Regions from separate parts of the Homo sapiens genome. Here region 1 is reported to be linked to region 2. Evidence: microRNA targets listed by miRTarBase, many of them from high-throughput screens and not tested one by one. Region 2 holds a microRNA gene; the other region holds the end of a gene's coding sequence.
The links. Region 2 holds the annotated microRNA hsa-miR-5192 (AGGAGAGUGGAUUCCAGGUGGU, at 1,001-1,022, opposite strand). A microRNA usually pairs through its seed, bases 2 to 8, with sites in the 3' UTR of a target mRNA and lowers its output. Matches are read on the target gene's strand: a 7mer-m8 pairs with bases 2 to 8, a 7mer-A1 pairs with bases 2 to 7 and ends in A, and an 8mer does both.

Region 1 (3,000 bases), not on the chromosome of region 2:
AGCCACATGAAAACTTTCCTTAATCTTGCCTGGCAATCTCAGGCACAGACCCAGGTGTGTCCTCACAGCACCCAGTCAAAGGAAAGATCCTCATGAAATGATCCAAAACCTTGAATGCTGGCAGATACCTGTGACAAACTGACACCCAAGCCCATGGATGGCACACACACACAACACAGGGAGCTGGAGCCTCAGTTTCACGCTGATTCAAAGAGCCACACAGGACTCAAAAAAGGAAAAGTCGAGACTGCCCTTAACCTACACAGTAGGGAGATAATCTCCAGAGAAGATTTAGATGCATGGAAAAGGCAAAAGATATATAGCCAATGCTTTGTCTTCCAAAGAGATCTTTAGACTACAGGCAATATCTGCAGATAAAGAAAAATTACAATATGGATGGGCCTGGAAACTGCTTTTTTTTTTCTAGTTCTTTGTCTAGGCCTTCAATATTTAAACAAAATGCAAAACTGAACGTTACCTCAAAATGAAACAGTGTGTGTACTGGCTGTTAGAAGTTGATGGCGGTCTACTGTTTGATATTCACTGCCATCTTCCTCTGCCCCACTCTACCTCAACTCGGGACCGCCTCACCTAATGGTGGGCTTTGCCGCTTTATGCCATGTAGAGAAGACACTGGGTAACCACAGCAAATCAACACGAGATCCTGTACTGCCTACTCTGGGAATATAAATGGCTCTGAGGCCAGGGGATAAAACCAAAAGATCTAGGAGTAGCTGAATGCCAAGAGACGAGTTAGAACAAGTTTTAGTTCCAAAGATGATTAGACTGGAAAGAAAACTGATCCAAGGAGGGTCATTTCTGTGTAGATCTAAAGACAAAAGCATGATTTAGATTTTCAGGAAGACAGATTTATCAAAGAGCAGGCTTGCTTCTGACATGGAGAAAGCTTACACACTGCTAAGAAAGTGAGCTAAACACTCTGGACAGAATACTAACTGAACTCGAGGGATCATTTATCAGCATATAAAAGAACTGACTAATAGTTCTCCCAACTGGACCCTCAATTCTCTTTATGAACTTGCAATTACACAAACTGCCAGCCCATACTGTCTTTGACTACAGTAATTTATTCACTGAATGATGTCTAATTACCGTGAAGAACACAGTAATTACAGAGAGTATTTAGGACCTCAGGTGAAGAGGAAAAGGGAAGGAAAGGAGGAAAGAGATGTTACATTCCCAAAGCCACAGGCACAAGAAAAGAACCACATCATCGGGAGGCAGCAATGCAGGGAAGGTGCCATCAGCAAGAGGCTGGGCCACCGTGGACATTATCCCCACTCCTTAAAGGGCAAAGGAAAAAACCACTGCTGAAAATATAACCTAATATTCCTCATGTTCAAATGAAGACACCCATATAAGCTGAAATTAATTCACTGGGAAGAAAAACTGAACAGATAAATCCTTACTGTCTATTTTGTGCATTTAAATAGCATGTGAACGAAGCTTCCTAAAAGCTTTCCGGTATTCTGGCCAGAAAGTCATCCTGGAAACAAATGTTCTTCCCTTCCCATTAAGTAGAAAGACTCATGACCTACATCAGAACACATACCTGGCACCAAGGCAACTGACTCCCACAGACTATTTTCTGGGGAGGGCATGGAATGTATTTAAAGGCCTCTATCTCAAATCGGTCATTATGTAATTAGGATAATCAAAACATCTTAATAGCTTCAATGTTCCTATAGAAACAGTGCTTTGGAGTGACCAGTGTTAGCTGCTAGTATCAAACATGCCTATAATAGTGTAGCAACAGTACTTTTCCTCCCACTTATCTACCAAACAAACCAATACCATCACACACAATAAAGAACATCCCATAAGCTGCTTGGCCTCAGTAAGGCTGGCCATAGCAAGCCCATGGCCCATGACAGAACACCAAGAAGGATGAGGAAGGAGTTGATGGGGAAAGAACAGACAGAAGGTGTTCTAAAAATAGAAGACTTTAGCTATGCACATGGTAATATAAGCCAAAGGGGAGTGTTGAAGTTGTAATACACACTAGGCTTGGGTATAATACCACAGTAGATGGAAGTCTTTAAAAAAAGATTCCTTCCTAAACCTTTTGTGCTAATTCCCTGCCTGGAATTAACACACACAGCAGGTTAATCTTATAATCACAAGGACACATACAACCACAGGCAGACACACACACACACGGCCACATCCTTAACCCAGGAAGTCTTAAGTCCTCAATTAGGATTTCCAGCAAAATACTTGTTCTATAGCTTTCTGGACTGTTCCCCAGGTAGGTTATCATGTAATATAATCCACACTCTCTCTACGTGGGAACTGAAGGACACCTTCAAATGCACTCAAGACCCATAAAATAATAAAACATACTAGCTGCTCCATTTTCATTTCACCACTTTGAAATCTTGGAACCACTGATGTGATATCCCACAGAGAGGGCAAGACTTCACTGTGAAGTCACCAAAGGAACTCCTGCCCTTCTAGGTGCCACTTGAGTAATAACTCCCAACTCACTGGTCCTCTAAACCTGCAGCAGGGAGATGGTGTGCTAGGTAGCTACATGGGCAGGAGAAGAAATGGAAACAAATTCCCGGAGGATGTTTTTGGCCATCTCGATGTTGTTCTGGGCAATGACCAAAGCTTTCTGGATGTCCTGGTAGGAGTACCCCTGACTCATGAGGTTCTCGATCTCACTGGAGAGCTGAGGTGAGGCGGTGGCAGCAGAGGCGGCAGGACCACTACCTTGCTGACAGCTGCCAGCTTTCCGTTCAGAGTTGATTCTCCGCGGGAATGGTTTTGGAGGCCTCTCGGGAACTTGGGAACCTTCAGTGACATCTAGAAGAAATAGGAAAGAAAATATTTGCAAATCTGGGGAAATCCTCATTTAACAACAGCAATAAAAATGTGCTAATATCAAGATATTACTGACTTCCTGTAAACTGGGTACATGTGCTCTTCAGTCACAAGGCTGGGTTTTACAGGTTCAAGGGTTTTAAGATATAGCCT
Region 2 (3,240 bases):
AAGAGAATATGCTCTTGGTTACAGCGAAGGGGACACCAGAAAGTGAGGTACTACAACCTCAGACTGCAGGACTCCTTGGCTTATCCATTTGGAGTCTTGTAGGGTAGCAGCTTGGAGAGAACTGCCTGACTCGCTCTTCCAAAAGCAGGCACAAAGAGTGCAGAAAGTTCTGCAGAGTAGACATGTGTAGAGATTTTTAAATAATGTTGTACTAGGCCAGGCACAGTGGCTTACACCTGTAATCCCAGTGCTTTGGGAGGTGGAAGTGAGAGGATCACTCGAGGCCAGCCTGGGCAACAGAGAGAGATCCTGTCTCTACAAGAATAAAAAACATATAAAAATAATGTTGGATTAAAGTGCATGGTCTAACACTTTGGGGAAGGGAAAAAAAATAGAGAAATGAGATAAAGGTATCAAGGACACTCCTTATAATAAAACAAATTAACCACTGCACACCTAGTGCCCACCCATTAGCTGAGTGAGGGCTTGTCCATATGCCATGGGCGCAATTGGATACACAGTCAAGTGGTGACTGAGGTGTCTTCATTTCACAGAGAAGTAAACTGGTTCACAGGATCAGAAAGTTGTCTGATGTTCCCAGAAAAAGTAGAGGGAGAGGGCAGGAACTGAGAACCCAGATGGGCCGCCCCCAGCCCAGAGCTGCATGGAGGGAAATGGGCATCCCCATCCTCGCTGAGCACGTCCAAGCTGATCCTTGATCCAGGCAGGCCACCCCTAAAACCCCATCCCGGAGGCCTCTAGACACCAGCACCCCTTAACAACAACTACTATCCTCCCCACCCATACCTCTTCTCAGCCTGGTTTCTCCTGGCTTAAAACATCCCTTATCTTGCTTCTCTCCATCCTTACCCCCATCCTTGAAGGCCCAGGTTCAAATCCTGTCTCCTCTTCCATGAGGACAGCCTTGATTCCCCCAGTCCATCGATTTCATCCTCTTCTCCTGGCACTCAGGATCCCCCAAAAGGAGTACCAAGCCCTCACCACCTGGAATCCACTCTCCTGGCTACCATGCTTCCCAGGAGAAATGGTTCCAGGTGAGCCAGGAGGCTGGAACTAAGCAGCCTGTCCCTCAGGTGGCAAATGACAGCCAAGGGCTGGCAGGCCCCGCCCACGGCACACAGCCACTAAATGCCAGCGCTCCTCCTCTCACACTGAGCATCCAGTTAAATTGGGCTCCCTCTGGGATGCTGCCTCTTCTCCACAGTCAGACATCATCCTCCTCCCAGAGGAAAACACTTCTAGTGATGTGTGACCCTGGGTGGCAACTTCAGAGCAAGGCGGCAAAGAAGCAAACCAGCTCCCTGCTCCATCTCGGATTCCTGTCCCGCCTCTTCTCCCTTTCTCAAAGGCTGGTTAAATCCTAACACCTTACTGACAAGTGTTTCAGGACTGTTGTTTTCAAGTTGTTGCTTTTTAAGTATCAAAATAAACCATATACATTTTAAAATACGTATCCTCAAAAAAAAGTAACACTTTGGCCTTTTATCCAAATGTTCTATAAAAGGGGAGGCATCATTCAGGCCTTCGACCAAGACTTGCTTCCGTATTTAAAGAAGTGCAATAGTAACATAGCTTTCTCCGGCCACCCGCCAAGAAAAGTTTTTGTCGCCACAGTAAAAAGAGAACATGTTTGCTCAATATGTGGGCACTATTGAACTGCTTAAAAACTGGGCCTCTTTTACCAAGCAATTTGAGTCACCTCAGTTTTAAACGAGTCTCTGCACGTTCCCTTCATATACCATAGGTGATCACATATGTGGAGGGACGAGGGACCACAGCAATCCCAGTGCCACGGGCTTCCAATCTCGCCGGTCTGCCTGTCACTCTCCCTGGGGGCGTCCAATCTTCTCCCCCAGCCTCCGCTATCTCTAAATTGATGGCTGCCCACTCTGTGGTCCATTGTGACCTTCTTCTCTCTCCCTCTCTAGATGGTGCCCATGGGCCCCTAGTCGTGAGTGGGGTAGAGATGAAAATAAAGAATCATCACCCTGAAGCCGCTGGTGGCTACCTGAAGCTTCATGATACCATTCTCTGTATCTGCACTTGTTTGAAAATTTCCATTATAAAGAGTTAAAAAAAGACGATCCATCAGAACTTTGAAGAATAAAAGTTTTTTAAAAAAGAGAAACATTCAGTTAAAAATAGGAGTATTCATGAGAGATATTTTAAGTTCATTTGAAGGAAATAATTCCTTATGTGGTAAAGGAAAAGAACAAAAATATAATGGCTGCATCTCAAGAATAAAGTTACATAAAAGTTCCTTATAAACAAGCTTCAAAGACAACCATAAAATAATAAAGGTAAAAATATATCTCACTAGTTCCAAATGTTGACTATTTAGAAAGGATAGCATTTGTAACACTTCGACCCTTTCATTATTAGACAAATATATTTGAATCTGAAAATATCATTCGGCTTCCCAGTGAACAATCTAGAGCCAGACCTGGAGGGTTAAAAACACACATGCACATAAAACTCACCACAATTGTGTTATTCCCTGATCAAGACTCAAAAAAGAAGTACTTTGGAGAACCAGTTGGATGTTAAGTGCTTCTCAAAGAAAATAAACAATTAGAAAAATTTCTACCAGGCACTTTGGGAGGCCAAGGCAGGTGGATCACCTAAGGTTGGGAGTTCGAGACCAGCCTGACCAGCACGGAGAAACCCTGTCTCTACTAGAAATACAAAATTAGCCAGGCATGGTGGTGCATGCCTGTAATCCCAGCTACTCAGGAGACTGAGGCAGGAGAATTGCTTGAACCCAGGAGAAAGAGGTTGCAGTGAGCCAAGGTCATGCCATTGCGCTCCGGCCTGGGCAACAAGAGGGAAATTCTGTCTCAAAAAAAATTCTGAAGCACAAATAAACTGCAGCAAGTTTATGGTCCATAGAAATATCTTCCCAGAGCATTAACACTTTCATATTCATGAGTTCAATGGATTCCAATAATAAACATGTGAAATTGGCTGTGCAGGTTTCATGCGATTCTGCAGGGAGGTGGGAAACAGGAGCTAAGTGGGTTGCCATAGCTACAAAGACATTTGATGTCAGCTCTGGGACCAAAACCTACTTCAAGTTCTCTACATCAGCCAGTCCCTGACCCCCAACTCCCAGGATCTCCACTCCCTGTGACAGCTCTTGCTGCTTCTGGGGTCTTGCACCAATAGCAATCTCCACTGTTTCCCCCATCTTCAGCCTCTCCCTCTCCAAAGGCACCAGGC

Region 1: miRTarBase lists CBL as a target of hsa-miR-5192. The part of its 3' UTR that is shown has no 7-base or 8-base seed match.

The regions. Positions count from the first base shown.
Region 1 is chr11:119,299,324-119,302,323 of GRCh38, reverse strand. It overlaps CBL (Cbl proto-oncogene), which reads right to left. Exons shown (of 16, transcript NM_005188.4): 16 at 1-2,829. The coding sequence ends at 2,543. Among named protein-coding and RNA genes, the nearest start is that of MIR6756, 12 kb to the left of the region's middle.
Region 2 is chr2:62,203,664-62,206,903 of GRCh38, reverse strand. It overlaps MIR5192 (microRNA 5192), which reads right to left and starts at 1,078; the gene lies at 987-1,078. The region is part of intron 1 of B3GNT2 (UDP-GlcNAc:betaGal beta-1,3-N-acetylglucosaminyltransferase 2); the gene reads right to left.